Linked DNA regions of Homo sapiens: region 2 is linked to region 1. A link means that fine-mapping ties the variant in region 1 to the plasma level of a protein whose gene starts in the linked region. Region 1 holds a variant in brackets. A gene starts in the other region. All regions are shown on their reverse strands. Region 1 overlaps ZFPM2 (zinc finger protein, FOG family member 2). Region 2 holds the start of NPPB (natriuretic peptide B).

The links. PIP is the posterior inclusion probability: the model's chance that the variant is causal. The UK Biobank Pharma Proteomics Project read protein levels with antibody pairs (Olink). The fine-mapping took linkage between variants from a reference panel, not from the people measured, so its PIPs are less certain.
Region 2: it holds the start of NPPB, and the variant in region 1 is fine-mapped to the plasma level of the NPPB protein (UK Biobank, PIP above 0.99).

The regions. Positions count from the first base shown.
Region 1 is chr8:105,327,704-105,343,616 of GRCh38, reverse strand. The region is part of intron 1 of ZFPM2 (zinc finger protein, FOG family member 2); the gene reads right to left. Among named protein-coding and RNA genes, the nearest start is that of ZFPM2, 17 kb to the right of the region's middle. The variant A/T (reference allele first, on the strand shown) is at 7,948.
Region 2 is chr1:11,848,916-11,864,828 of GRCh38, reverse strand. It overlaps NPPB (natriuretic peptide B), which reads left to right and starts at 5,884. Exons shown (of 3, transcript NM_002521.3): 1 at 5,884-6,127; 2 at 6,360-6,615; 3 at 7,158-7,365. The coding sequence starts at 5,996. The coding sequence ends at 7,174. RefSeq lists a silencer at 5,319-5,485.

The DNA of each region.
Region 1 (15,913 bases):
TAGCTATTTTACTGATGCTGAGCTCAAAAGTGCTTTCAGTGAGTAGAATGTAGACCCAGAGCACCCTCTGGAATTATTTCCTTCTGACCTACAAGGAAGAAAGCTAATTCCTTTTCTATAGGAGTTCTCCAGATATCCGAATATAGCTCTCATTAAAAAACCCAGAATTTTCTTCTCCTATTAAACATTCCCAATTCCTTCAGCTACTGCCTGACTGTTATCCTGGGGGTTCACCTCCAGACATACTTGAGTTTTAAGGAGGATATGACATTGAACACAATACCCAAGATGTGACTGGCCAGTACAAAGTACAGCAGGACTCCTGTCAATTGTTGAACATTGCAGAATGGTTCTGGAATGCAACTTCCACTGAAGACTCAGTTAACTAAAACACCTATGAAGTTTTCATTTTAGCAGCAAATAAAGTTCATTTTCCCATCCTGTACTTAATAAAGTTGATTTTTTAAACCAAAATCTATATTGTTATTAAATGTTCACCAACAGTTTTAGGGTATCATTCCAGCCTACACAGAGCTTTGCAACCTGATCTTGTTAATTCATGTTTCCCACTGAACCATAGTAAAAGCCATTTAAATAAAAATAACTCAATGTTTTCAGGCATGTAGTATGTCCCCTCTCAGCCTTAAGCACTTGAGTCTGCCTCCAGAAGATTGTTATACTTATTATTATTTTTTTTGGTTTTATGTGCCAGACCTAGGAGTTTAGTATGACAGGCATTGGACAGAGTTTACTAAGAAACCTAGAGATCTATTATGTCATATGTTGCTATTTTCATATCCAGAAAAACAAATAATAGTTTGTAAAAGTGAAATTAGATGTTTTTCTTTCAAACAGAATCAACAAAATTGTAATTGGTAAGGGAAAGCAAGTTTTATTTTTTCTTTTCTTTTTTTCTTATATTTTCTCTTTTGCTTTGTTTTAGGAGAATTTTGTTGTTTTCAATTTAAAGTAAATATAAGTTAAGAACTTGCATTCCCCTCTATGAGTTTCTTTGGTCTTTTCTCTGTGGCTGTCTTATATAGCTTATTTTCTTTTCTTTAGATAAATAGGCAAATCCAAGTGAAAATATTAATGTCCCATTAATGTTAGTGAGCATCCGAATGTCTCACACATTCCTCTTGAATCCGTCTGCTCTGAGTCTTTTTATTTCAAATTACCCAGTTTGTGCTCAGTTGTGCCCTTCCATCAAGAGAAGGATTCTTCAAGAGTTCTCCTAGAGCAACTGTGCTAACTAATTCTTAGGTAATTTCTATGAGAATATGACAATACCTGCTTTCACCTCTTAATCCTTGTGGGCTGAATCTGAATGAATGATTCAGCACAGCTCATCAACTTGACTTTCTCAAAGGAGATTTTGACATTATAACCAACATATGTGGCAGAAAGGTTAACTTATCACTTAAATATGAAACAGGTTTCTTTATAATCTCCATATTCATGAAAAGAGAGCAATAAGGCATTATTAAGTGTAGAGATGTCTTCAAAGAGTACTGTCAACTCATCTATTCCTATCTGAGAAGACACATATTAGAAATCTTCAGAAGTATCAAAATCCTTTATGCAACTGGAGTTTTGCTTTTATGCCCAACTCACGTTCTCCCTGAGCAGAGGTTTACATTCACTAATACTAGCAAATGCCCAGGCATTTAACTTAGCCATCTCCAGATGAACAACCTGTGAATAAATTATTCCACAAAAGCCCAATGAACTTTTAGCTTGGAGTACAAAACTATAACATTTCAGAATGTTCTAGATGCTTTGTGTTCACCACAGGTTCCCAAGAATCTCCACAGGGTTCTAAGGTCACATATATCCAAGGATATTAGCAGTGATACATGTTATCTAAAATGAAGTTAAAAGGGAAGTAACATGGCTTCAACCCTAAAAGTTTCACCAACTGCTACTACAACAGTAGTATTGAAAGTCAATAAAAATTGCCAGTACTTATCACTTAATCTAATCAGTCACAAATTTTCATTCAGGGAAATACATATATATATAAAATGAGGATATATCAACTGTGTTAATATTGCATATATCAACAATAATGTTATATTGTTAACATTACAGTAACATACATACTGTATTGCCACATGCATAATATATATTGCATTGTTACCTTACAGTAATAGTATATATTTTTAATGTTATTGTATTATAATAAAGTATTACATTGTTAATATTACATATATTGTATAATATCATAATGCAATATTTTGTGATAGAAATTCACTCCCATAATATGGACAGAATCATGTCATTGTCAGTGCAATTGCGTTGTTCTCCATTTGTTGAAAATGCAAATATCATATAAATAAATGACATGTCTGAAAAATCAAAGTGCATTGGACTGAGTTTCCTGAGAGCCAATATAATTATTTTGGACGGATTTGTGCATCTTTTAGAGAGTGGAAGCCCCACGAGGGTATGTTCTATACCTACCTTAGTAACTACATTATCCCAACTTAACTCCATTTCTGACACATCTGCTTTTTTCCTGGCTTTACACCATTCAAAAGGTAATATGGTTCAGCTGGGCCATTAGGGGATGGGGTAGATGAGAGTCTCTAGGGGACATTTGTCCCCTCACCCTTGACAGTGGTTCCTCTCCATTTTTCAAAGAAAGATATTAATTTATGTCTCCCATCAACAGCATTAAGTCTAGGAAATTTGTGTCTAACAGATCATTGTCAGGCAGTCCCAACAGTTACTCTTTGTCACGTTACCCTATTTTATTTTCTTCGTATACTTATGCCAATCTGAAATTGCATTGCACATTCACTGAGTTATTGTGTTTATTGCCTGTTGCCAACCTCTAGAATGTACGTTCTGTGAAAGCAGAGATCTTACCTTCCTAGTGCACCACTGACTTCTGTACATAGAACAGTGCCAGGTAGATTCAAAGAAAGATCAAAATATGTACTTGTTAATATAAATAAAACTATACAAAATAAATTTATTAATTAGAAGTCTCCATCATTAACAAGACACATCAATACTTTTTACAAAAAAAGAAAACTACATTAAATGGATTTATTGCTTTTAAAGTAAGCTATATTCTGATTTTCAGGGACATTAAAAGTAGGAATTCTACAATCAAGAAATGTATTTCAGATTTATCTTCTTAAAATTAGTCAAAAATGTATATGATTGCCAGAGTTTCTTACCAGCATGGAATAGCAAATGTAATCTGATTGTGTGATAAATCCCATGACTCCTAAATAAATAAGGCATTTTTGTTGTTATGGGTACGTTTCTGAGTGATGATTTTCCAATTTCCCCAAGGCTTTTAAGAACATTGAAATTGGCTACTGACCTCAAAGATTTTTAGAATAGGAAACACAAATGTAGTTATACTGGCCCATTTTACAGGTGAGAAAAAACTAAGAGCCAGAAGCTCAGTGAGTCTAGATAACATCGAGGTTATCTAAAAGGCTAGAGGTGTTTCTCATTGCAATGGCTCCTTCATTTTTCTCAACGACTCCTTCCATTTTCTTTCATGAAAAACACTTTGTACAGTGCATTCCACATAAGAGAAGCTCAATAAATGCCAGTTTCCTTTATTCCTAGATTTATATTTGCTGGAAATAAACGAAAATACAATATTTTCAAATCCTGTAACAACAGACCTTAAGTTAACCCTATGATTCCTTAAGATCTCCTTTATGGCATCAATTCTTATATTCTCGCACTAACGAAAACAAAGAAGTTCCAAAGGGCAATTTTGCTGCTTTAAAGCTCAAAGTAAGTTTTTGGACTAAAAGAATATTGTTTTTAAAAATTAAATTAAAGCAGAGCGAGAGAGAGAATATGAATGAGACACAACGTGAATGAGAGAGATGTCAACCATTCACCATTCAGTAGCTCAGCAGGTTTGTCAAACTCTAGATTTTGTTTTAGCCCACATTGCAGAGTTCAACTCTGATCTAACTACTAGCATGATTTTTGGGCGTCTGTTTGCAGATGCAGTCGAATTATCAATCCGAACAGACACACAATCCGGGTCCAATGTCACTTCTCCTCATTATGTTAATAGTTAATACATGCAAATGAAAACACTCTAGCAATTTGATTTCTTTGAAGATAGTTTGCATATTGTCTTAGCCATAATGACTGTACACTTCTCTCAGCCTCCATTTATGCAAGGGTAGTGTAGTTCATTTTTATCAGCTCCAGTTCATTTTGGCTGCTATTGGAATGTATGTGCATGTTTCTTTTTTACCTTTTGCCTAATTACCATTCAGGTACCATAAGCAGATTTTTCATGCTATTGGTGTTTTTCTTAATTAAGAAACAAATGAATTCTCCCTAGCAAAAAAAGATGGAACAACAGAATAAGATGCCAGGGGCTGATGTTCTGTTTCTTAATTGAAGCAGTTCTATTGTTCGGTGTCGGTAGTGAGGGGGCTGAAATGTCATAAGTGTAGAATGTTAATAGTACAAAAATAACATAAAACTACTTTTAAAAATAAAGAATACAAAACAATGCTGTAAGAGCTTTGAAAACATAGATTTTTATCCACATATTAATTCTGACAGTAACAAAGTAGCTTCATTTACAAATCCCTCACACTTAGAAAGCCTGAGGTTCTAACCCCAGTCCTGAGAGATATGCCTGCCCCACTCTGCTGGTCTAGTTAACAGTGTCCTACTTATTTACTCTTCATCAATTAAGGAAGCACCCAGGGGAACAATTTGTTTCTTTAATTTGTGAATAAACCATTGCTACTTTAATTTGCATTCTTCTTTTTTTCTACCCACAGTAAAATCTCAATGTCCTACCAGTATATTCAATATGCCTTACTACAACCTTAAGGTAAGACACATGCAAATTCATACAGACAACTCTTTCATTTCCCTTGGGATGATAAAACTTCAAGGAATTGAGGCTTTAAGAGAAAGCTGAGTTTTTACTCACATCTGTACTGATGGCACAAATCTGCTCTAGTGAATGGCACAAAAGGTTACATATTTTTCTCTTTACTAAAAGCTGTGGACAGATATTTGTTCACTAATGGCTTTATTCCTTTCTCAGATTATGAAATTCTTGCCTTATTTAACTGAGACTTTTAAAAATGAAAACCCATTACTATATTTTAAATAAGCTAGTAAAGACTTAACAAAAGTTATCTTATAGAGTAACATTTATTTTTCCTGACCAGAAAAGAGCATTATAAAACAAGATCTCTAGGTATCAATTTCTAAATGACTAAGTTTCTACTGATATTGTTCATACTTGCTGTCTTTCAGGTGCCTGACCTATGTATGAGATGCATCAAAGAGTCAAATAGAATAAAAAGAATTTAATATATATGTGAACAAAGCATATCATTATGTAGTTTTTCCCTATTTGGAAGGAAGAGGTCATAAGTAACTCATTTTATCATAAATATCTCTATGCATAGTGAAAAATAAAGGTGGACCTTTATTTATTAAAACCTAATGTTTTGTAATAACATCATGGGATATCATAAAAAACCTTTAGGTTGCTATACAAGCATAACTCATGAGTTTTTAAAAGTAAATAAATCATTTTAATTTGAGATTATTTTTAAAACTTTTTAACAAAGTACAGAAAATATTTCATGAGTCATCCTAATGAATGTAGAGAGTTTCTAATGGAAGAGATCTGTTAGAAACCAATTTGTAGCACACAAAATTACATATATACTTATAACTGAAGAACATTTACATGACCATTATCATTTTGAGAATCTACATTTATGTGAAGTTGTAATATAACTTTGGAAGAGCTTAACTCACTCACAAAATTTGCAGTCTTATAAAACTGTCAGGAAAATCCTCATCTGATTATTTTTCATTTCACTAAATTAAAAAAAAAACATGAACTATGACCAAAAAGAATTATGAACTATGACCAAAAAGAATTTTCATCTCTGTTCTCTCTATGCTCTAATACATTAGAAGACGATAGTTAAGGTCACTAATAAGGTCACACACATAATAATAAAATGTGACATGATATTCAGTTATTGACTTATTATTCATAATGTAAACTATGAAATAAGACCTAGGGACAATAGTTTTCTTTCTCTCACTTTCTTGAGTTTCTGTAATATTGGCAAGGGTGGGAAAGAGGAGAAAGGCAAAGAATTTTGAAACTTTGAGATTTACAACCAAATTCTATGTATATGAAAGTGTGAACTAGGATAAAGAAAATGTTTCTTTAAGAGGGTTTCTAGAGACTTGTGAAATTTTATTTCTTCAAATTCCTCAAGTGAAGAGACTAAAAATATCTATTATCAATTTTAACCCAGTAGCAAAATGTTTAGAAAACACATATTCCTTACCCCTGCAGCAGTGTGAAACTATTGTTGTCTTGCCCCACCCCCAGTCTCTGACTTGCTAACATGGTGTCCCTGCCAAATTCTTGGCATTGGAAGTGAGGGGGAAGAGGCCATACCATAACGTGTTGATAATGATGAGATAGAAATAGCAAACCAGCTGGATTGTCCTAATAAAGTATGTCTGGGATTTAGAGACACAACAACTATGTGTTCAGGTCATCCAAATGCATTTTCACCAACTGGTTTCTTCGATGATCTTTTGAGATACTCCAGTCAGGATCTTTCTAAAGGAATTTTATGTATTAACTCCAGAACCGTCTGGAAAAATACAACAACTAAACAACAAAAACTAACTACTCACTTTTTCTGGTAATGGTTAGTATAACCAAAGCACCCTGTGTTATTTAATACCAAAAAATGAGACGAAGTGATCTGTAACAGATTTCAGAGTTTGTAAAAACATTTACTGGTTTATAGATATCTATATCTATACATCTATATCTACATCTATAATGTGTGTGTCATATATATAGTGTGTATGTCTGCATGTATATGTCTGTGTGTGTGTGTGTGTGTGTGTGTGTGTGTGTGTGTGTGTGGAGTATATTACATTTTAATATCAATCTATCTTATAAAGCGTTTCCCAGTGAAGCTCAAAATATTTTCCTCATTGGGAATAAAGTATTTATTCCTTTTAAAATTACTTTAGGGTGATTTGAGCAAAATTATTCAATTAGAGTATTCAACAAGATCTTTTTATAAAACTTACGTCAACTACAAACAATATTTACCAAAAAATACTTCATTTAAATATTTGTCAATTAAAACATGCAAACCAAAGACCTTTAAAATTATATTTTAAATACCTGAGGATATTTACCACTACCAGAGAACAATTTCTTTTCATGGATTTGACCTCAAAAATACTAATAATCTAGAAAAGTTTATCAGTGCATACCTGGTGCTGTTCTAAACGATTTACATGTGTAAACTCGTTGAATCCTCTCAACAGCCCTTATATAAGCTCTCCTTAATAACCTCGTCTTTACAAATGGGGAAACTGAGTCACGGATTAAATAACATGCTAAAAGGACACGACACAAGGAAGTGGCAGAGCAGGAACGTGAACCCCAATGAAAGACTCCAGAGTTCTGAAACATTATAACAATACCCCTTCTCTAAAGAATGATTGTATAATTCAATCCCCTTCTAAAACGTAAATATATGACTTTGTGCCGTACATCCATTCAAATGCCATCGGATAGGCAGCCACTGCATTTTGCAATGTAAAGTTAACATGTAAGTTACCTACATCCTCATTTTCAAGTAGATAGCTTGCAACGCTATTTCTCAGGACAGTCAGACCTCTGGGCTAATACATTTCCACAGGGTGGTTAGGGAGGGGCAGCACCATTTGATCAGAATACGCTGCACGTAGCAGGCCAACCAATTCTGAAGATGGATCCTAGTAACATCAATAATCCTCATTACTCTTTATCCCAGAAATTTTGTGTAGCCTTCTCAGCAGAGGTAGTTCTAACTTGATCATCTTCAGTAATTTATTCTACTAGGCCTTGCTCTGGATCTATTTTTGGTGCTGACCACTAACTTTATCATC[A/T]TGAAAACCACTTGTAGCTTTTCAACAGTTGATGGCTGGAACATCAGCTGGCCACATGGGAGCCAGGGACTGGATGCACTTTGGGTTCATTTTCCTCTGATTCTTTCCTTTACTTCTTTGGGTCTTTAGGAATAGAATTCTTGATGGCAAGACATACCACAAGAGATTAACTTTTTTCCCAAAAAATTAGTTCTCCATTTGCATAAAGTCATTGTATAATGCCACTGATCAGATGAATTTACTTACAGTAGCATACACCTTGTAGCACCTCTGTCCAAACTCAGAATGTAAATTACAAAATACAATAAAATCTTCAGCACTACCTAGGTTGTTCAGAATCTATGAGAATGAATTAAATAAAACTGACCTTATGGTCCTATAATATTCCACTGAGGCTGAAAATGCTAAGAGACTCCACGGTTAAAAACAACCTTTCTCAAGTTGCATTAATGTTCCTAGGCTCTAGGTTCCTTCAAATGAGAGAAACAAATATTTCATTTGTTTTCGGATTATAATTTCCCTCAACTCCGTGTGTTATTTGTTTCCTAACCTTATGTCCACTTTCAAAATTATCTGACAAAAATTCAACATATTTAATTTTCTTTCCACTCTGTCATAATTATCAGGGGGTATTTATGCTGGCATTTATGAATTAAAACCTTTCTATTTTATTCAGGGGCATCCTTTCAAACCCCACTGACACTCTAAGCTTTGGTCTCTCCATGTACTCCTTCATTTCCTTCTGCTGCTGTTGCTGCTGCTGCTGCTACTGCCCACGAGAACACTTGAGATAGCTTGGAAGACTTTCAAGGATAAAAAAATCCTTAATAAGGTACGAAAAAGAGCAACACATTGGGCCCAGGGCCAATTTAAAACTATGTCTGCATATAATAATATGTATAAAAATAAGCATCTTAAAATCACTCAGAAGGCAAAACATTTGATAGGGGTGAGAGATGAACTCTTTCGGGCAGGGCAGAAAAAAATTTCTGAACTCAGGAAAACAACATCGTGGAGATAAACTTTTTGTATAACAGGGCCTAAATGAATACATTGAATTTTAAAGAATAGAACTTTTATCTAAAACCAAACTATCATACACTATTAATCTGAGGTTAATAATACACCCATGACCTATGCTGCTGAGAGTAGAGAAATACTATACTTTAAAAGGTAATATATTTAAAACCTTTTTCTCTGCATTATTTCTTTCTCTAAAGTAAAAGTGAGCATAATCTTCACTTGAGTGCTCACTTTTGGTATATTCTCATATAAACTGAATGATAACTATAGAAACATTTATCATTATAGCTATTCTCTCCCATATTGTCTGAATTAGAGAGATATTAAAATATTCCATAAAATATTTTTCTGTGCCCTACTTTCTTCCCAACTCCCAAAAGCACTTCTATCCTCTCAACTACACAACCTAAGGGAAGACAAATAATTGAAAACATAATTATAATGGCAATATTACCTGATTTTCTGGCCCCAAACCCCTCCCCCCACCACACACACACACACACACACACACACACACACACACACACAGTTTATTACTAGCAGTAATGGCAGTGGTATGAAAATACTGACATTCACATTCCACAATGTATACATTTTATTTTTTTAATTATTGGTATTAATTTGTAACTTATTAAAATTATATTTGGTTAAAAACTGAAAACAATATTAAGAGGCATACAGTGAAAAAAGAGTCTATGTGCTACCATAAACTCTCAGACCTCATTCCCAAAGAAACCATCAACAATTTCTTGCATATTTTTTCAAAAATTTTTATGAAAAACATATCTAATATCTATTCATTTTTCTTTTCAAAAACATTACAAATAGGTACATGCCATACTGATTTTTTTTCATTTTACGAGTCTTTGAGATATTTCCATATCAGCATGAACACATCTGTCTTACCCTTTACAACACCTGAGAGGGTTATACCATAATTTTATTTAACCCATCCCCTATTAATGGACATTTAGGTGACTTCGAATTTTTTGCTATCAGAAACCATGCTGTAATGAGCACACATATGAGGGTTTCTATGGGATATGTAGAATTGCTGGGTCAAACAGTATATGTGCAATTTTAATTGCTATAAAATGCCAGACTGTCTTTCAAAGAGGTTGCAACAATTGGCAATCCCAGTAACAATTACTTTGCCTTCTTGCTAGTGAACATTTTTGCCTCTCGATAGGCAGCTATAAAACTAAGCTAATGCATATGAATGAATGGAAAGCTACTACCAAAGACGATCTCATGAGTTAAGCACAAACAGATTCAATTAAAAAGATACTGCTCTGTTCATTCATTTTTGCATGTGTTGTCTAGCCTCAATAAAATATTCATACTAAACTACTGAAAGCACTGAGTGATGGTTTTAGCCATCAGCTACGATGTTGTTATTAAATCCGTATCTAAAAGTTAGAGGGTAGCACAGAAGGTCTAAGGTTGAATTCAAGATAATAATTGTTAAACTTCACAAAATGAAAGTTAACTGAAGCCCATTGTTAGCTCAGAGGTTGTTGTTGTTGTTGTTTTGCTTTGTTTTGTTTTTTGTCCTCTTCCATTTCCAAATTGGAATTTGGTAGGATCAAAGCAATTATCAAGCAAATACAAAATACACTGATCAGGCTCTATTTTTCAAAATCTGCAATGACCATCAATTACCTAAAGGATGAGTTCAAATTCTTCAACATGGCACACAAAGCCCTTTAAAAGTTTGGCCCCAAATCAGCTCTCAAGATGCATGCTCTGTCACTCACATAGTTTCATCTTTGGCCACAACTATTCACTGGACCTTGAAAATACCATGCTCCTTAACCTCTTGGCCAAGCTATTGTTTCTGCCAGGATACAATTCCCTCTTGTCATGACTACATCTCCCACTCCTCCTTCAATACCCAGCTGAAATAGGACCTCATCCTAGAGGCTTAACCTGACGCGCTTATGAACCTCAATGCCCACAGCAATTTATACCTCTATCTATCAAGATTAAATCATAGTGTACTTACTATGTAATGCACTAATTGAAGGGAGAGACCATGGTCTGTATTTGCCCCATCCCCATGGCTTAACATGGTACACAAAATTAGTACTTACTATATGTTTGTTTATTGAATATTAAATGAAGTTTTCATGTAAGTTAAATTTAACACATATAGGTAACAATCTTTTCTTGGGGCAAAATTGTTTAAAAATATATCACAGGAAATTATGTGGGTTTTTAAAAAAATTTTTCATTCATTCATTAATCTACTACTCTTTGAGCATCTGCTATGTGCCTGGTATTTTTCTAGCAACTGTAGTTATAGAAGTGAACAAGACTAGGTCACACACCCAGAGAGCTTACATTCTAGTACAAAGTCAACTAATAAACAAGTAAATAATCTAACAAATACGTAAGTTATGGGCTGGAGAGCAAACTGAGGCAACTTTAAATGGGAAGGCTAAAAGAGACCTTTCTGAACAATTGACATGTGAAGTAAGAAGTGAATGAGAAGCCAGCCATACGGAAATCTAGGAAAAGAACAGGAAGACAGGCAGCTTGGCATGATTACGGAACAGAACAAAGACCCATAAAGATAAAATGTAGTGACTGCAAGTGGTTTATGGGTAGGAGTTGGATAGGGAAGTGCTACATAACAATAGTATGCTTAGTGATCAGGTCAGACATAAGGAACAGATCTGGTAGTCCATGATCAAAAGTTTAGGTATTAATTTGCAAAGGGATGTCCACTGGAAGAGAGGTGAAGTGATATGACTTGACTTTATGTTTTTCAAAAAAATCATTTTGGCAAATAAAAATGAAACTGTTCCTATTTTATATTGTTACCTTTTAAAATGTAATAAGTGATCATATAGATGTCTATATAGCAATTCCTTAGAGTCCTCTTAAAGTTCTGATAGGGCTGTAAAGCCCATTGAGAAGCTCATGAAAACCATTTCCTAGAAAAATTCATGAATACATAAAATTTTCCATTAAATGTGTGGATATTCACAAACTCTTCAAAGCCTATAGACCCTAACCTAAAAATCCTTCATTCAAAATGTAATCATGTTTCTTTCTTAGGAGAGTAGGAACAATATGCTGTTAACATCTGTTTCACCTCCTGTAATACATAAGAGATTATTTCTCTACATAAAGTACATTGGTACTAACCACAGTATAGAAACAACAAATCCCCTAACACGTACCTTAGTAACATCCCATACCGGAACCTCCTTGTTCTTATTTCTCCAAAATGAAAACTTCCAAACCAAGAGTCAAAGAACATCAAAGTGAATGTCAGACTCATCAGTCCAGCCACTGCATCCCAAACTCATACTCTTCCTTAAATGAGATTTCTGAATCTGGAGGATTAATCATAGAATTGCAGTCTAGCTGGCCAGCTCCCTGATTCTTTTTTTCCATTTGTAAGAATTGTTGATCATAATTATTTATTATATAACTGGGTGTATATATATGTGTGTGTGTGTGTGTGTGTATAATATATATATATAAAATATAATATATACCCAGTTCAAAACCAGATGGAATAACAAAAGAAACAACAAACAAAAAAAATAATGGGAGAAAAGGGTTGAACATGAAGTATTAGATACTCTATAATATTAAGTGTGTGTGTGTGAACACCAAAAAACAGGTTATTAACCTTTAGAGAGTTGTTCACAGATACACACAAAAAAACTGAAATACTATCAAAGCAATTGGCATTTGACAATTGTGACACTGCCTTAAAATATTTTAACTGTAAAACTGAAAAATGTATCACAGACTTACACAGCGATTTTACAAGGAAAATTCAATTGTTTTCTCTTTTCTCTCATGTAACAAAATTATTGACCATTATTAGCTACCATCAATAAATAATATTACCAGACTCCCATCAGCAATGTAACCATCAAAACAAGATCAGTAAAGGTCAGCACCATTTGCCTGAACCATCTTTTCTGCAAAAGTTTTTCAAACCATAACTTTATTGATTCCTCACTATTCCTGAAAAATATATATATATATATGTATATATATATATATATATGTGTATATATATATATATGTATATATATATATGTATATATATATGTATATATATATATATGTATATATATATATAGAGAGAGAGAGAGAGAAATTGTTTTGTTCCATATAAATCTATATAGAAGAAACTAGGTCATTTTCTTATGCACTTTTCTTGGACCTATTACTAATTACTGCTGAAATGGTGATCGGTTCACCTTCCCTGATGACTTATCATGAGTACCACTTCAGGTTCTGGCACAAGTGTTTTCAGGCAATATTCCACTTATACTATCAGCAATACAGCACCTTGCAGAATTCACCTTCCTGATATTAAGCCTACAGCATTTGCTGAGACCCAACTGTCCTTTGGAGATCTGACCCTTAAAACTCAGAGAAAAATGATACATCATAGAGGATTTCTAGAGAGTATCAAACTGTCCTAAATCTAAATTCAAATGCAGGCTGTCCAAATTCCAATTCTGTCACAGTGGTACTAATTTTTATGGCTAACACTGGAAACCATTTTATTCTAAAACTAGCTATTCTACTTTATGCCTGCCAGCCTGCCTGCTTGCCTTCCTCCTTTCTTTCCAAGAACATTTATCCTGTTAATTATGTTCAAACTCAGAAGTGTTCTACAACATTTTTCTATCATAGCAAAAAAACAAGCAAATACAGATTTTTTTAAAGGTGATTTGAATATGTGTCAAGAATTTGGGGATTTCCATTATTAAAATGCAAAGAAACATTCTAATAATCTCATCACCAACCAACAAGATTCAAGTTCAGCAAATTAATTACAGCACAATCATTCACTAACTATGGATCTGTACAAAGTTCTCCCATTGTGCCAACCAAGGTTTCCCCAAACTCTGACATGTCTGTGTTGTGCACTAGAATACTTTTTAACCTAAGCTTCTCAGAACCTATAATTCCCAAGCAGCTGGACTGATAACTCTAGATTAATTTACGAAGTAATTTTTCATCCCAGAAAACCTATATTTCTTCAAAAAGTTTAAATTTAATATTAAATTTGGCCAGGTTAAGTGCTATGACATTTTGTAGCTCTTTACCCCATAAGATTACAATAAAATATGCAAAAAGTCATTATATATTGCAAAGTATAATATGAAATATGATTTAGTTATGAAATGAGCATATGCCCTCATCCTTTATCATATCAACAAAGTAAAAACATTAAGTTAAATTAACATGGAAGTAGTCACACATTTCTGTTTGTAGACTGAATCTTCATGCCTTTAAATGACTATCAAATGTTAGGACCTGGACCTAAAAGAGAAAGAATGAAATATTAATAATGTCCCACCTTGTGGGAGCTCGACATTACTTGACACTACACAGAAACTGACCTTTTTGTCCTTCAGGCTTGCCTACCAGGCCCCATCTTCTATCGCAAAAGCCAAATCATCTGATCCCAAACTAACTGTCAACTGCCTGTGATGGTGGGGAAGCCAGACATCAATCAATCAGGTTTTATCAGACGCTCTCTTCGTTTCTCTGTTGTGCTCATCTTATCATCTGACCCAGTTGTAGCCCTGACTTCAGAAGCTTAAGCAACTTGATGACAAAATATGTGCCTGTTTGTCCAAGATGCACATTGTTAAGAAGTGGGGTGATATTTTTAGCAGCTACCTAATATATTTGCAAATGAACACTTGAATATTTCAGATTCACTCAAGTCCCAGGTTGGTCAGTCTCCCCTGTACACTGAGTCTTCATTTGGAGGTGGGAGGCCCAATATTTCCAAAAAACGCAAGAGTACTTATGTACAAGTCAAACAGCATTGGAAAATCTGGTTATTTTTATGTCAATGTAAGCAGAAAGGCTACCAAAATGAGAATTTGAGAATGTCACTTCAAGAAGAGAAAGAAGAACTGATTGGTAAGTGTGCACAATACAAATTCAGACAGTTTTATCCTAAATAAATAAAAATAACTTAGAAAATTAAAAGCCATTTAATCTATTTATATTGACAACAGTCTTGGAAAAAACATGTTTAAACCTTCAATGCTGTTGCCAAATCTAGGTTAGCTGGCTTCCTACTTTAATGGCATAGTCCAGAATATACTGCTATACATAAACAGTTGAGGTAAGAAGACAATTACAACACAGATTACAAATTTGAAATTTTCAAATTCAAAGCAGATATTCGTTCTATAATTTCTACACAAAAGCAAGAAGAGTAAAATATACATATATTTTGTGGATATAAGCATTCTATGTTGGCATTAGTAACTGTCTTCTTGCCTCACTTTGTTGTTTTTCTTCAAGGAGAAATTAAACTTTTAGATCTTTCTTAAAATCAAAACAACAAGCTTCATGATGAATATAAGCATTCCATTAATAGGTAATGTTGTCAATATACATCCATCCCCCAATAATACATTCACTGAGCTATATTTTGAAAAGCATTTAAAAACAGCATAAAATTTCTTCACAGAATTTATCCAAATAAATGCATACTTTAATCATGTAAGTATGGGCTATATAACATCACAAAGTATTACACTGACATATTGGACATGGATGAAAATGCACACCATGAAAATAATTTGTATACAGTGAGAAACACATCATTCCAAATGATTCGCACTGAATTCACAGGGTTTTATTAAAAAGAAAAAACACACACACACAAATGCCTTTGAACTTCTCAGCACACACAAGGAGCATGAAGGCTTACCAGTCCATGGCATTTACTGTTAGGAGACATTAGCTATGGGAAATTAAACAAGCTTCTACTAGAAAATGAAAAAAAGGCCTTTTATGCTATTGTAAGTAATAAAAAATAAATTTAAAACTTTTCTTGAATACCAAATATGCTACAATTAATCTATGACAGATTTTGTCAGTGAATTATAAATAATCAGATCTTTTAATCGAATTGTGTGTTAAGCTTTAAAGCCAC
Region 2 (15,913 bases), not on the chromosome of region 1:
CAGGCATTGCTGGATCCAGGGACTTGAATGCTGTCACCAGAATGCCAGCGATGGGGAAAATATGGGTGAAGCACAGTTCTTTCTGGAGGTGGTAGGAAGGATAAGGTGACCCTTTCAGAGTCCCTTGTTCCTAAGCAAGGGGAGGGAGGGAGGGAGGAAGTGGGGGGCGGGGGAGACAGAGAGAGAGAGAGAGAATATTACCTGGCAACACACAGTAATTTCTATGCTCAGAAATTGCTGGTGAGGCTGGACATGGAGGGTTGGAAGTTTTTGGTTTTGTTATTGTTGTTATTGTTGTTATTGTTGAAGACAAGGTCTCACTCTGTCGCCCAGGCTGGAGTGTAGTGGGGTGATCCTGGGCTCCTGGGCTCAGGTGATCCTCCCGTTTCAGCCTTCCAAGTAGCTAGGACTATAGGTGACACCACCATACCCGGCTATTTTTTATTTTATTTAATTAATTTCTTTCTTTCTTTTTTTTTTTTTTGTAGAGGCAGGGTCTCACGATGTTGCCCAGGCTGGCTTTCAACTTCTGGGTTCAAGCAATCCTCCCACCTGGGCCTTCCAAAGTGCTGGGATTACAGGTGTGCACCACCACACCAGACTGAGTGGTGGGAATTAGTAATTATTTTCTTTCAAGCTGCCAAGCACAGCCCTCCCTCTGTTAACCATGTCTAGAGATTTACTTCAAGAGCAGAGAAGGTCTACAGACCCATGCTGGTTTCCAAAGCACCCCCTAACACACACACACACACACACACACACACACACACACACACTTGTGTGCACACCTGCATGTCTGCCACAGCTGTGAAGGGCCTGATGGCCCTATGCAGGTGGTTTCTGGCTTTTGGAGGAAGTCTAAGGGTCACAGAAGACAGAGGCACTACTGGGGAAGTGGGAGCTAGCAATCTCACCTATAAAATGGGGTAAGCTGGTAAGCTGGCCAGGCGTGGTGGCTCACAGCAGTAATCACAGCACTTTGGGAGGCCAAGGCAGGAGGATCACTTGAGCTTAGGAATTCAAGACCAGCCCAGGCAACATGGCGAAACCCTGTCTCTACAAAAAATATGAAAAATTTCTAAAAGTTAGCCAGGTGTGGTGGTGCATGCCTGTAGTCTCAGCTACTCAGGGGGCTGAGGCAGGAGAATTGCTTTAGCCTGGGGGAGTCAAGGCTGCAGTGAGCCAAGGTAGCCCCACTGCACTCCAGCCTGGGTGACAGAGTGAGACTCTGTCTCAAAAAAAAATGTGTATAGTATATATATAGGGTGAGTTGACTTATTACAACTAGGGCTTTTGTGCCTGGCAGAAACCTTAGTCTAATCCTTTCACTCTACACAAAGGGAAACCATCCTAGAACAGAGAAGCAAACCGAGCAGAATCTTCGGAACAGGCCGGGCACGGTGACTCACATCTGTAATCCCAGCAATTTGGGGGGCAGAGGCAGGCGGATCACCTGAGGTCAGGAGTTCGAGACCAGCCTGACCAACATGGTGAAACCCCATCTCTACTAAAAATAAAAAATTAGTTGGGTGTGGTGGCACGTGCCTCTAGTCCCAGCTACTCAGGAGGCTGAGACAGGAGAATCACTTGAACCCAGGAGGCGGAGGTTGCAGTGAGCTGAGATCGCACCACTGCATTCCAGCCTGGGTGAAAGAGGAAGACTGCATCTCAAAAAAATTAAAAAAAAAAAAAAAGAATCCCTGGAACAGAGCCACACCGTGAGTCAGCCACGGGCAGAGACGAGCCTGCCTCCTGCCTCCTGGGTCAGTGCTCCTCTGTTTCCTCCTTTGCTTCCCCCAGGTGCCCAGTGCTCTCATACCATCCACTTTGGCTGCCCAGGACTAGACTGGAGATTGAGGCCAGAGGGAAGCTACAGAAAAATCTTGCAGCTGGAGTCCTACTCTCTGACTAGTCAAACCTTGTATTCTGCACAGCTTCTTCCTTCTGCAGAGAGCATAGGGGTGGTAGCTGATCCATTAACCAGCCCTTCTAGCCTCTGCTTGTGCATCTGCTCTGCCCAGAGTGCCCTCCCCATCTTCCATCTTCCTTCTTGTGGCTAACTCATTCTTATCCTTCAAAGCCTTAGCCCAGCCCCACCTTCTCCAACAAACTCCCTTCTCGACTGCGCACTCCTGCTGTGCTCACAGAGCATCCAGGACTCACTGCCACTGTATCTGTCACTCACTGTGGCAGCCTGGGGAGCCTGTGATTGTGCCCACCTTTCCCCCTGCACTGTAAGCTTCTCAATGGCAGGGACTTTCTTGTCCGTTATGTATCCCCACCTTCCAGCAGAAATATTAGATTTTAACCTGCACAGTCTCATTTTATGCTCACAACAACCCTATGAGGTAGCCATGAGAAAACAAGGAGAGAGAGGAAGCAACTTGCCCAACACACAAAGGTAGCAAGAAGTTGATGTGAAATTGAGCCCAGACTGTGATTTCAGTCTTGGGTCTGGGCTACTGTGACCCCAGGGTCTCGGTGAAAGTTTGTTGAATGACTTAAGGGTCTTATTTCTTTCTGTGTGGCCAGATTAAGCACTTAGAGTTGGATGGTGGTGGGGAACCAATACTTCTACCATAACAACATTTGCTGAGGGCTTACTATGGGAGAGACACTATGCTTGGCATTTGACATATACTCTATTAATTTCCCATTGCTGCTGAAACAAAGTCTCACAAGCTTGTTGGCTTAAAAGAACATGATTTTATTTTCTTACAGTTCCAGACATCAGAAGTCTGAAATCTGTTTCACTGGGCTAAAACTAAGGTATTGGCAGGCCCATATTCCTTCTGGAAGCTCTAGGGAAAAATCCATTTCTTTGCCCTTTCCAACTTCTAGAGGCTGATTACATTCCTTGGCTCATGGCCCCTTCCTCTATCTTCAAAGCCAGCAGTGTAGTCTCTTCTCTCCTCTCTGACCTGTTCCCATCCTTACATTTTGTCCCTCTGACCTTGATCCTCTGGCTTCCCTCTTATAAGGACCCTTGTGATGACATTGAGCCTTCCTGAATAATCCAGGAGAATCTCTCCACCTTGAGGTCCTTAACTTAACCACACCTGCAAAGTCCTTTTTACCATGTAAAGTAGTATATTCGCAGATTCTGGGGATTAGAATATGGACATCTTTTGGGGACTATTATTCAGCTTACCACAGACATCATCAAATTTAATCCTTGTACATTAATGCTCCAACAGAGGTGTTATGATTAGCTTCATTAAATAGACTTGGAAAGCACATAGCATATGACAGGCCCTCGATAAATGTTGATGGGGCTGATCTGGTGTGAGAGTTAGTTGACAACATATCCTCCTCCCTGGACAGCAGGCCTTGGAGGATGTGTCTAGTTCTGTGTCTTCCTCAAGTCTTCTTCCACAGTCCCCTCCACTGGGGACAGATAGAAACTCTGTCAGAGTGTATGACACTTAGACACTTAATTGTCTCACTTGGGGTCACTTTGTCTCCCCAGTGAGATCACAATCTCCTTCAGTGTAAAGACCAACTCTCATGTACTACTAATTATTTGGCCCTTTATACAGTGCCACGGGCTTTTGCAGATATTATTTTTTTCCTTTTAGTCCTTGCAAGGACTGTCCATTTTGCCGAAGAGCAAAGTGAGGCTCTGGCGAGATGCAGAGTCAGTTTTTGATGGTGCTGGTTGATGAATCCTGCCTTGCTCTGAACCCTTTATCTCATGGTACTCAGCATGAGGGGCTTTCTGCACCCTCAGCAGCCTCTCGCCCACTGACTCCCCTCTGCACTTGGCTGAATTTTCTTACCTCTTTAGCTTCCTCTTAGCCTTTTGATACTCTTACTGTGGCATGCTCATGTGCACGCACACACACACACACACACACACACACACACACAAAACTACCCCAGCCCCCCAGAACATTTCCAGCACTGGTGTCTTTACACAGCCCTTACCCACCCACCTCCATTTATATTTCATCTGCAAAATGCTCATCTGAGCCACTTCCCATTCTTTCTCCTGCACACACAGTCACCACTAGAATTGCACATCCCCCACAGCACAGCTCCCAGAGCCTTCATAGATGACACGGGATTCACCTAAGCTTGCTTTTTGTAGAAACACCTTGTGATCACCCTGGCAGTGATTATGAGCTTCAGGTCTGGAATCAGACTGCTGGCTAGACTAATCAGACTGGTTAGAATCCAGGATTTATCATGTGTCAATTGTGTGACTTTTGGAAAGTAGATTAATTCATGAACACCATTTCCTCCTCTGAAGTGAGGAATAATAACCGTGCTTTTCTCACCTCAGGGGCAGATGCTATTTTTTAGGCAAGATCTGCTTAGAGGTCCCAGTTTCTTATTGCTGCCCTTCTCTGCTGTAACTCTTCTCCCCTCATAGACAGCTCCACTCCTCCAGCCTGCTGCTTGTTGACACCAATTCTCTGGAAGGGGAGTGACATCAGTCATATATGCTTTAGGGGGGTATTTAAGCTGCTATGACTCTTCTCAGGGGCATTTCTCTCCAAAGTCTCACTTCTAATCACCAGGCCACCTGCTAATGATAATTAGATCATGGGTGGTCAGATGAAGGAGGCACTGGGAGAGGGGAAATCCCCATATCTCTGGTATCCCAGCAAATAGATAACCATCATTCCAGCCATCCTTTTGTTTTCTTTCTTTCTTTCTTTCTTTCTTTCCTTCTTTCTTTCTTTCTTTTTTCGCTCTCTGTCAACCAGGCTGGAGTGCAGTGGCGTGATCTCAGCTCACTGCAACCTCCACCTCCTGGGTTCAAGTGATTCTCCTTCCTCAGCCTCCCGAGTAGCTGGGACTACAGGCGCCTGCCACCATGCCCAGCTAATTTTTGGTAATTTTAGTAGAGACGGGGTTTCACCGTGGTCTCGATCTCCTGACCTCGTGATCCGACCGCCTCGGCCTCTCAAAGTGCTGGGATTACAGGCGTGAACCACCATGCCCAGCCTATCCTTTTGTTTTCCATCCTGTGTTGGCTTGGTGGGGGAGAGGAGGTGTTGACACGTGGAGGACACACATATAAGGCATTCTTGGGTGACTTCGTCATCACTGGACCCTATCTCTCAAAATTCCAGCGAAATCTGCTCTTCCCTTTAAGGAGTGAAAGAAGGGTCAGCATTCCAGAAGTTCCTGGTCATACCCAGGCTTTTAATGAATTGCCACTGGGGAATCAGCATCCCGTTGCTGTAAGGACTATAAGATGGCGGATTGTGAGAGCATAGGGAAAGGTCTCGGAGGTCTCTTGTCCTTGCTCCACGCAGGTCTTTCTGGCCTGAAAATCCCGTTGAAGAGAGCAGCTCTTGAGAGTTTGCTCCAAGTTCCCTCGGGGTGATCAGCACCACGGACAGCGGCCAGGGCGCCCCCGAGGACCCGCAGGCAGGCAGGGTGCACAGCGGCGAGCAGGTGCTGCGCTACGTGCGGGCCAGGGAACTCGCGCGGGGAGGGGAGAGGCGCCGCGGGTGGCGGGGTCTTGGCCGGGGCTGTTTTCGCTGTGAGTCACCCCGTGCTCCCCGCGCTCACGTCGGTCCTCGGAAAGCCGGGGTCCTCCCTGCCTTTTCCAGCAACGGTGGGGTGGGGAGGCAGGAAGAAAGCGCCAACCTAGGACACCTGGACATTTGCAGGAAAGGAAGAAGCGGGAGACGGGGACTTGTCTGTGTCTCCAGCGCGTTCCTGCCCCCCGGCCCGACCCGGCCCATTTCTATACAAGGTCGGCTCTGCCCGGTCTCCACCTCCCACGTCGCAGGCGCGGAGGGGCTCATTCCCGGGCCCTGATCTCAGAGGCCCGGAATGTGGCTGATAAATCAGAGATAACCCTGCATGGCAGGGCAGGCCCGACACTCAGCTCCAGGATAAAAGGCCACGGTGTCCCGAGGAGCCAGGAGGAGCACCCCGCAGGCTGAGGGCAGGTGGGAAGCAAACCCGGACGCATCGCAGCAGCAGCAGCAGCAGCAGAAGCAGCAGCAGCAGCCTCCGCAGTCCCTCCAGAGACATGGATCCCCAGACAGCACCTTCCCGGGCGCTCCTGCTCCTGCTCTTCTTGCATCTGGCTTTCCTGGGAGGTCGTTCCCACCCGCTGGGCAGCCCCGGTTCAGCCTCGGACTTGGAAACGTCCGGGTTACAGGTGAGAGCGGAGGGCAGCTCAGGGGGATTGGACAGCAGCAATGAAAGGGTCCTCACCTGCTGTCCCAAGAGGCCCTCATCTTTCCTTTGGAATTAGTGATAAAGGAATCAGAAAATGGAGAGACTGGGTGCCCTGACCCTGTACCCAAGGCAGTCGGTTCACTTGGGTGCCATGAAGGGCTGGTGAGCCCAGGGGTGGGTCCCTGAGGCTTGGACGCCCCCATTCATTGCAGGAGCAGCGCAACCATTTGCAGGGCAAACTGTCGGAGCTGCAGGTGGAGCAGACATCCCTGGAGCCCCTCCAGGAGAGCCCCCGTCCCACAGGTGTCTGGAAGTCCCGGGAGGTAGCCACCGAGGGCATCCGTGGGCACCGCAAAATGGTCCTCTACACCCTGCGGGCACCACGAAGCCCCAAGATGGTGCAAGGGTCTGGCTGCTTTGGGAGGAAGATGGACCGGATCAGCTCCTCCAGTGGCCTGGGCTGCAAAGGTAAGCACCCCCTGCCACCCCGGCCGCCTTCCCCCATTCCAGTGTGTGACACTGTTAGAGTCACTTTGGGGTTTGTTGTCTCTGGGAACCACACTCTTTGAGAAAAGGTCACCTGGACATCGCTTCCTCTTGTTAACAGCCTTCAGGGCCAAGGGGTGCCTTTGTGGAATTAGTAAATGTGGGCTTATTTCATTACCATGCCCACAATACCTTCTCCCCACCTCCTACTTCTTATCAAAGGGGCAGAATCTCCTTTGGGGGTCTGTTTATCATTTGGCAGCCCCCCAGTGGTGCAGAAAGAGAACCAAACATTTCCTCCTGGTTTCCTCTAAACTGTCTATAGTCTCAAAGGCAGAGAGCAGGATCACCAGAGCAATGATAATCCCCAATTTACAGATGAGGAAACTGAGGCTCAGAGAGTTGCATTAAGCCTCAAACGTCTGATGACTAACAGGGTGGTGGGTGGCACACGATGAGGTAAGCTCAGCCCCTGCCTCCATCTCCCACCCTAACCATCATCACCCTCTCTCTTTCCCTGACAGTGCTGAGGCGGCATTAAGAGGAAGTCCTGGCTGCAGACACCTGCTTCTGATTCCACAAGGGGCTTTTTCCTCAACCCTGTGGCCGCCTTTGAAGTGACTCATTTTTTTAATGTATTTATGTATTTATTTGATTGTTTTATATAAGATGGTTTCTTACCTTTGAGCACAAAATTTCCACGGTGAAATAAAGTCAACATTATAAGCTTTATCTTTTGAAACTGATTTGTCTTGGCGCATTAAAAATAATCCCTCATTTCAAAGAAACCAACCCAACTAAAACCACAAAGCCCTGTGATCTCAAGGCATCTTCATGGTGGGATGAGGATGTGGCCTCAGAGGTAGCAGGCTTTCTTTTCTTTCAGAGTTTTTAATGCTCTGAAATGTTATTGAATATCTCAAGCACTTGAGGCACTTGGGAGAAACTGCTTTTCAAAGCAGGGCAGGATACGTGTGCAACCTGAGGGCACGTATCCAGCCGTTTTCTCCACTCGTCCTTGCTCTGCCTGGAATTCCACCATTAAAGCACTCTCCCTGGGGATTATTGCTTTCAGGTCTCAGCTAAAATGTCAACGACTGGGGGCAGTGTGTGTGGGTGTGGCTCATCTACATTCCCATACCGGGGTGAGCCCTCCATCCTGCCCCAAATATCAGCTTTGAAACTCCAATTCCTGGGGTCATCCTGCAAAGGAGCCTTCAAAACTCCAACCCACAAAGTGAGAGGGGTCTGGCAATCAGCCCAGCTTTCCAGGGTGCCCCTCCCCTGGGGCTGCATCATCTCTTCTCTTTGCCTTAACCAGTGGGGAGGCTGTCTCTCCTATGGGTCCCCTTCCCACACACCCTGCAATCCAGGCCTCCGCAGTGCTGAGTTCCTCTCCTTTCAGATTCCTGGGAAGGGCCTCATGTCATTCGCTTTCTCACAATGCCATTTATAATTCCAGCTCAGCTGAGGGGTAAGGCACCATGAGGTCCACTATTATTATGTCCATTTTCCAAATGGGAAAACTGAGACCCGGGAAAACTGAGACCCTGGAAAACCAAGCGTCCTATCCAAGAGCACACAGCGACTAAGCGCTGGTGTGGGAACTGAGCGGAGATCCAGGTGACTCTTGAGCCTGTGCTCTCTGACTCTTGAGCCCCACACTCCTGCCCTTGAACTTCACTCTCAAGTCTTTTCTGATGTTCTCATCAGATGTTTCTTTGAATGAGAGTGACCTAGAGGGTGGAACTTTGTGTTATTTATCATTTTCACCCAGTGTGCATCTGAGGATTTATGGATATCTAATGACATCAATTAAGATTGTTTAGACTGGGTGCGGTGGCTCACACCTGTAATCCCAGCACTTTGGAAGGCCGAGGCCAGAGGATCACCTGAGGTCAGGAGTTCGAGACCAGCCTGGCCAACATGGTGAAATCCCCTTTCTACTAAAAATACAAAAATTAGCCGGGCATGGTGGTGTGTGCCTGTAATTCCAGCTATTCAGGAGGCTGAGGCAGGGGAATCGCTTGAATCTGAGAGGTGGAGGTTGCAGTGAGCTAAGATTGCACCACTGCATTCCAGCCTGGGTAACAAGAGTGAAACTCCATAATCTCAAAAAAAAAAAATTGTTCAAAAACGAGGTTTTAGGCCAGGGACAGTGGCTCACACTGTAATCCCAGCACTTTGAAAGGCCGAGGCAGAAGGACGGCTTGAGCCCAGGAGTTCAAGACCAACCTGGGCAACATAATGGGACCCCCATATCTTCAAGAAATGAAAATGAAAAAAATTATCTGGGTGTAGTGGTGCATGCCTGTGGTCCCAGCTACTCAGGAGGCTGAGGTGGGAGGATCGCTTAAGCCTGGAAGCGGGGAGGCTGCAGTGAGCTGTGATTGTGCCACTGTACTCCAGCTTGGGTGACAGAGGGAGACCCCATCTCAAAAAACAAACGAACAAAAAAAGAGAATAAAAGAAATAAAAAAGAGGTTTTAGGGGCAGCTTATTTTTCCACCAACTGTGAGTCATGTCTAATGCTTCCAAACCGGGGAGAGCAATGAGTAATTAGAATAGTTAATATTCATAAAGGCCTCATTCATGTACCAGGCACAGTCATATAGACCTCACAACAATGAAGGAGTTAAATTTCTTTTTTTTTTTTTTTTTGAGACAGGTCTCACTCTGTCATCCAGGTTGAAGTGCAGCGGTGCAATCTCGGCTCACTGCAACCTCTGACTCCCGGGTTCAAGCGATTCTCTCGCCTCAACCTCCTGAGTAGCTGGGAGTACAGACATGCACCACCACCCTCAGCTAATTTTTGTATTTTTTGTAGAGATGGGGTTTCATCATGTTGGCCAGGCTGGTCTCGAACTCCTGGCCTCAAGTGATCCACCCGCCTCGGCCTCCCAAAGTGCTGGGATTACAGGCTTGAGCCACTGCTCCTGGCCTGGAGTTAAAACTCTTACATCCCTCTTTTTACAGATGGGGAAACCAAGGCACAGAGATATATAACTTGTCAATGTCATGTAGTTAGCAAGTGGCAGAGCCAAGATTCGAGGACCCGTACCCCTAACCACTGTCCCACCCAGCTTTTTCCAAGCCAGTGAATTAGGCTTGTGGGTGGGATGGAGGTCCCCCTCCTGGTGGCATCACTCAGTTCAACATCTGGGCCACTGCCTGCTGGTGGCCTTTCCCCTCTGCTCAGGTGATGAGGACACACCCCTCCCAAAATACTCCCCAAACCCAGCCAGCACTTTCAAATTCCTGCAGATGAGTCTGGCTCATCCATAAATGGGGCTCAGATGGTGGAGGCTGTACACACCATACATCCTGTTACTTGGGTCCTTTCCCTAAGCAAGGAAAGAGGACCCCAAAGTGACCTGCGAAGGAGCCAAATGTGACAGTTGGAGCTGGGTAGCGGTAGCGGGCCGCCTGCTGTACCCAGTGAGTGACATCTCATCAAGCTCTCCACGTGGTTGGTGTTTGCAGGCAGCTTTGTGGTACACACACCGCATGTAGATGCCCTTAAAACCAGCCCTCCCTAACCATTCCCCACGTAGCTGTAGCCATGGCCTTAACCTCCCTGACTCCCCGTTACCAACCTTGTCTCCCAAAGAAGCTGCCAAATGATTTATCTCCATAGACACTTTTTTTTTCTTTCTTTCTTTCTTTTTTTTTTTTTTTGAGACAGAGTTCTCTGTTGCTCAGGCTGGAGTGCAGTGGCATGAATACAGCTCACTGCAGCCTCAACCTCTCAGGCTCAAGCAATCCTCCCACCTCAGTCTTCCAAGTAGCTGGGACCACAGGCTCATGCACCACGCCTGGCTAATTTTTTTTTACTTTTAATTTTTTGTAGAGATGGGGTTTCACCAGGTTGCCCAGGCTGGTTTCAAGCTCCTGGGCTCAAGCAATCCTCACACCTTGGCCTCCCAAAGTGCTGGGATTACAGGTGTGAGCCACTGTGCCCAGCCTTACGCTTGTTATCTTATTTTTTATTTATTAATTATTTTTTGAGACAGAGTCTTGCTCTGCTGCCCAGGCTGGAGTGCAGTGGCACAACCTTGGCTCCCTGCAACCTCTGCCTCCCTGGTTCAAGCAATTGTCCTGCTTCAGCCTCCTGAGTAGCTGGGACTAGAGGCGTGTACCACCACACTTGGCTAATCTTTTTGTATTTTTAGTGGAGACGGGGTTTCACTGTGTTGGCCAGGCTGGTCTCGAACTCCTGACCTCAAATGATCTGCCTGCCTCGGCTTCCCAAAGTGCTGGGATTACAGGCGTGAGCCACCACACCCGGACTCTTGTTATTTTAATCTTTCCAGAAAGACGTGTTGGTGAAAACAGACTGAGGAGATTTAGTCCATGGCTTCAGAGCTGCAAGAAGCTTCAATAGAGAGTGAACTGGTTTTTTTCAGGTCTTCAGTGTTGAAGTCACAGAAGTCAGGACAACGTTGGGCCTGAAAGCTTCATCTCATGTCCGTGATTTTGCACCTGGGATAGTCTCAAGGAACACTGAGCCCCTCTCCCTCCCTCTTATGGCTGATTTGACCCTTCGTTGTTGTGTTTTGTTTTGTTTTGTTTTGTTTTTGAGATGGAGTCTCACTGTTGCCCAGGCTGGAGAGCAGTGGTGCGATCTCGGCTCACTGCGACCTCTGCCTCCCAGGTTCAAGCAATTCTCCTGCCTCAGCCTCCCGAGTAGCTGAGACTACAGGTGTGCGCCACCACGCCCGGCTAATTTTTTTGTATTTTTAGTAGAGACGGGGTTTCAGTGTGTTAGCCAGAATGGTCTCCATCTCCTGACCTCGTGATCCGCCCTCCTCGGCCTCCCAAAGTGCTGGGATTACAGGCATGAGCCACCGTGCCCCACCTGCTTTGGCCTTTCTGAGAATGATTTGTGGCAAGGAAAAAAAATGCATTTCTCTTCCTGCAGAGCTGGGTCTAAACCATGACATGAACTTGGCCATTTGTCTTTGTTCATGTTGTAGATCTCAGCCTCTCTCTAGGATTTTTCATCCACTGCCTTAGCTTAAATAATCAGTCTTATTCCACCAAGTGATCCATTTTTCCCTTGGGGTCTGGAGCCTGCCCCATACAGCTGCCTTAAGCGTTTCTAGAACCAAACTCAGTATCTGCCCTTGGACACTGGCTCCCACTCTCCTGCCTCTAGCTGTCCCGTTTCGGGCACGGCAGAGGCCCGTAGCCCCTGATCTTCAGCACACATCAATCCTTTCATCCAGCAGCACTGCACTTTTCTGCCTAAGAACTTTCTCTGGCAGCCGCAGCCCACTCAGCTCCTTGGGGCCGGCAGGAAGTGCTGGGGAATTGACATTGACCTGAGCAGTGCTCAACCAACATCTGACAGGAGCTGGCTTTTTTTTTTTTTTTTTTTTTAAATAGAGACAGAGTCTTGCTCTGTCACCAAGGCTGGAGTGCAGTGGCATGATCATAGCTCACTATAACCTCAAACTCTTGGGCTCAAGCGATCCTCCCACGTCAGCCTCCCAAGTAGCTGGGATTACAGGAGTATGCTGCCATGTCTGGCTAATTAAAATAATTTTTTTTTTCTGTAGAGATGGAGAGTCTCACTATGTTTGCAAGGCTGATTTTGAACTCACGGCCTCAAGCAATCCTCCTACCTTAGCCTCCCAAAGTGCTGGGATTACAGGTGTGAGCCACTGCACCTGGCCAGGAGTTGGCATTTAAAGACCCAGCTCACGCCTGGTGCAGCAGCTTACACTTGTAATCCCAGCACTTTGGGAGGCTGAGGTGGGAGGATAAATTGAGTTCAGATGTTCGAGACCGGCCTGGGCAACAAAGAGAGACCTCGTCTCTACTAAAAATAAAAGAAAAAAAATTAGCCGGGTATGGTGGTGAACATCTGTAGTCCAGCTACTCGGGAGGCTGAAATGGGAGGATCACTGAGCCGGGAAGTCAAGGCTGAAATTACCACTTCACTCCAGCCTGGGTGACAGAGCAAGACTCTGTTTCAAAAATAAAATAAAATAAAATAAAATAAAACAAACACCCAGCTCCCTTGAGTCATAGGTGGCATGTGTCTCTGTTCTCCAAACAGAGAACCTGTTTGGAGTTCTCTGTGGGAGGAGGATTAAGCACCTACTGCCAGAGGTGGTCACTGACTTCTACTTTTTCTGTATCACTTCCCCACTCTCCACTGACATTTCCTGGGTTTGTCTCCAAGATCAGCCACTAATACTGGAATATCTGTCTCCGGTTCAAGAGAACTTAAACTAAGACACTCCCAAATAAGTCAACCTTCCTGCAGAGCCCTGCCCTTCATGATTCTCCTGCCTCAGCCTCCCGAGTAGCTGGGACTACAGGTGCACACCACCATGCCTGGCTAATTTTTGTATTTTTAGTAGAGACGGGGTTTCACCATGTTGGTCAGGCTGGTCTCGAGCTCCTGACCTCAAGTGATCCACCCACCTCAGCCTCCCAAAGTGCTGGGATTACAGGCATGAGCCACTGCACTCAGCCAATGTCACCTTACATTTGCTTTCCTTCCTTCTCTATTTGTGTGGGCAGTGCTTTCAGAAGGCCCCCAGAGATCCCCAACCTCCTGGTCTTCATACCCTCTGTAACCCCCTCCCTTAGAGTGTGAGTGAGACCCAGAGACTCACTTCTAAGGGACACAGAACAGTACAACATGAAGAATGGGATGTCACTTCTGAGATTAGGTAACAAAGAGACTGTGGCTTCTTCCGTAACTTCTCTTTCTCGCCTGACCTAATAGAAGACAGTTGCGTCTCCATGGAGAGACCCACGTGGCAAGAAACTGATGTTTCCACCAGCCACCAGCCAGCGAGAACCTGTGGCTTCTGCCAACAGCTGCAGGAGTGAGCCTGAAAGCCTATCCTCCCCCAGCCAAGCCTTGAGATGACTGCAGCCGCAGCCAACGCCTTCATTGCCCAGGGGCCCCAGGCCAAGCAGGGCCAGATCCCTGATCCACAGAGCACAGAGGTGATGAGATAATAGATGTGCATTGTGTGAAGTTGCTAAGGTTTGGGGTGACTTGGTTTTTGTTTTGTTTTTTGTTTGTTTATTTATTAAAAACAGGGTTCCTTATGTTGCTCAGTCTTGTCTGGAACTCCTGAGCTCAAGAGATCTTCCTGCCTCAGCCTCCCAAAGGGCTAGTATTACAGGCGTGAGCCACCATGCCTGGCTTTTGTTCTTTTTGAGACAGGTTCTCACTCTGTCACCCAGGCTGGAGTGCAGTGGCTTGGTCATGGCTCACGGCAGCCTCAACTTCTTGGGCTGTGGTGATTCTCCCACCTCAGTGTCCAGGGTAGCTGGGATGACAGGCACGCACCACTGCACCCAGCTAATTTTTTGTATTTTTAGTACAAATGGGTTTTTGCCATGTTGCCCAGGGTGGTCTTGAACTCCTGGGTTCAAATGATCCTCCCAAAGTGTTGGAATGACAGGCGTGAGTCACCACGCCCAGTCTGGGGTGACTTGTTACCCGGCAGTAGTTAACTAAAACAGCCTCTCACTCCGCCTCACTCTTGCTTCCTTTGAATAGGAACCCCCACAAAACTTTAGCGAGTGACCTTTTGCCTTGGGCTTTGTTTTCTAGGGAAACTGTCCCCAGTCTTCAGCCCTTAGTGACCTCCATATTAAACCAAAGAAACAAAACATCATTTTCAAAGTCAGCAACGATCATCCCTAAGTATGAACCAATTTTTCCCAACTGGGGCTTCTGCTTTAGACCATCTGGGTCCCGCAGAATCATGCCACGAATGTGTTGGGGATTTCGTGCCAGCTCTGCACGCGGGTGACACTGCACACTCTGGGGCTCCCTGCAGCAGCCCAAGGCATACCCCCAGAGAATCGTGAAGCCAAACTCTGGGCTGGAATCTGGCAACACCCGGATTCTGGATTCTCCCACCCGTTTGCAGTGCTCCACCCGTTGTATGACTAAGATGACTTCTTTCCAGTGATAAGGAAATAAAAGGCTTTTGATTTTTCAGCCGTGGAAGAGGTGGGGATGGAGGTGGGCCTGGCTTTCTGTGCCTGTTACTTTTCTTCTCTCTCACTCCTACAGGCTGCTTCTAACCACCCCATGAAATATTAGATCCCCACCTACAGACAAACCCCAAGGCTTGCCAAAGAGGGTCCCTTTTATCTTATCTTAGAATAATATCACCCTGGATACCTCTTGTGACCTCTAGTCACTTGCTGCCCTGATTTCCAACCTTATGGCTGCACAACGTCCTGTTCACCTGGTCAGTCATGAGGTCAGCACACCTGGGGACAGATCTGGCCAGCCAGGACAGAGCTGGTCACTCAACACACATTTTCTGAGCTTCTAAGGAGTGGATTAAAACACATTCGGTGTAGAAATAGATCAGGAGAGCAGCCAACACACACAGACTTGGTAAGTGCACAAAAAAGCTACAGCCCCAGGGGCATGGGGAAGGTGAAGGAGCTCCCTTGGGGCATCTGAAAGATGGGGAATGGGGGTTTAATTGGGGAATGCAGCTAAGAGGTAAGGTGGCAGCTCTCTACGTGAAATAGGCTAGGATACAGACATCAGCGTCAGACCTGGGGATCCAGTCCTGGTTCCGCCACTTAGGCACCTAGTGGCCTTGGGCAAGTGGCATAGCCTCTCGGGCTCAGTTCTGTTCCCTTGTAAGCAAGGACAATGCTATCTACCACCTGGGGATGGTGATCAAAATAAAATCATTTCCATAAAGTTCTCAGCACAGTGCTAGGCATGCTACAAGCAACCAATAAAGACAACTATGATGGCCATCTTGCAGGGACTCAGCACTGCACACTTGTTATGTGTTGACACGTTCTCAGCTCACTTGGGCTCCACAACAATCCTGCAAGGTAGGCAGGGAAGATTTCTACTTTATTCATTCATTTATTTATTTATTTTTTGAGACCGAGTCCCACTCTGTTGCCCAGGCTAGAGTGCAGTGGTGCGATCTTGGTTCACTACAACCTCCGCCTCCCAAGGTCAAGCAATTCTTTTACCTCAGCCTCCCTAGTAGCGGGGATTACAGGCACATGCCACCACACCCAGCTAATTTTTATATTTTTAGTAGAGACAGAGTTTTGCCATGTTGGTAGGGCTGGTCTCAAACTCCTGGCCTCAGGTGATCCACCCACCTTAGCCTCCCAAAGTGCTGGGATTATACGTGTGAGCCACTGCACCCGGCCGGTTTTTAACATTCTTTCTCATTTTACACACAAGGAAAGTAAGGCTGCGAAGAGGTATGCAACTGGTTTGTTTTGGGCTACAGTACTGGTCTCTCAGCCCTTC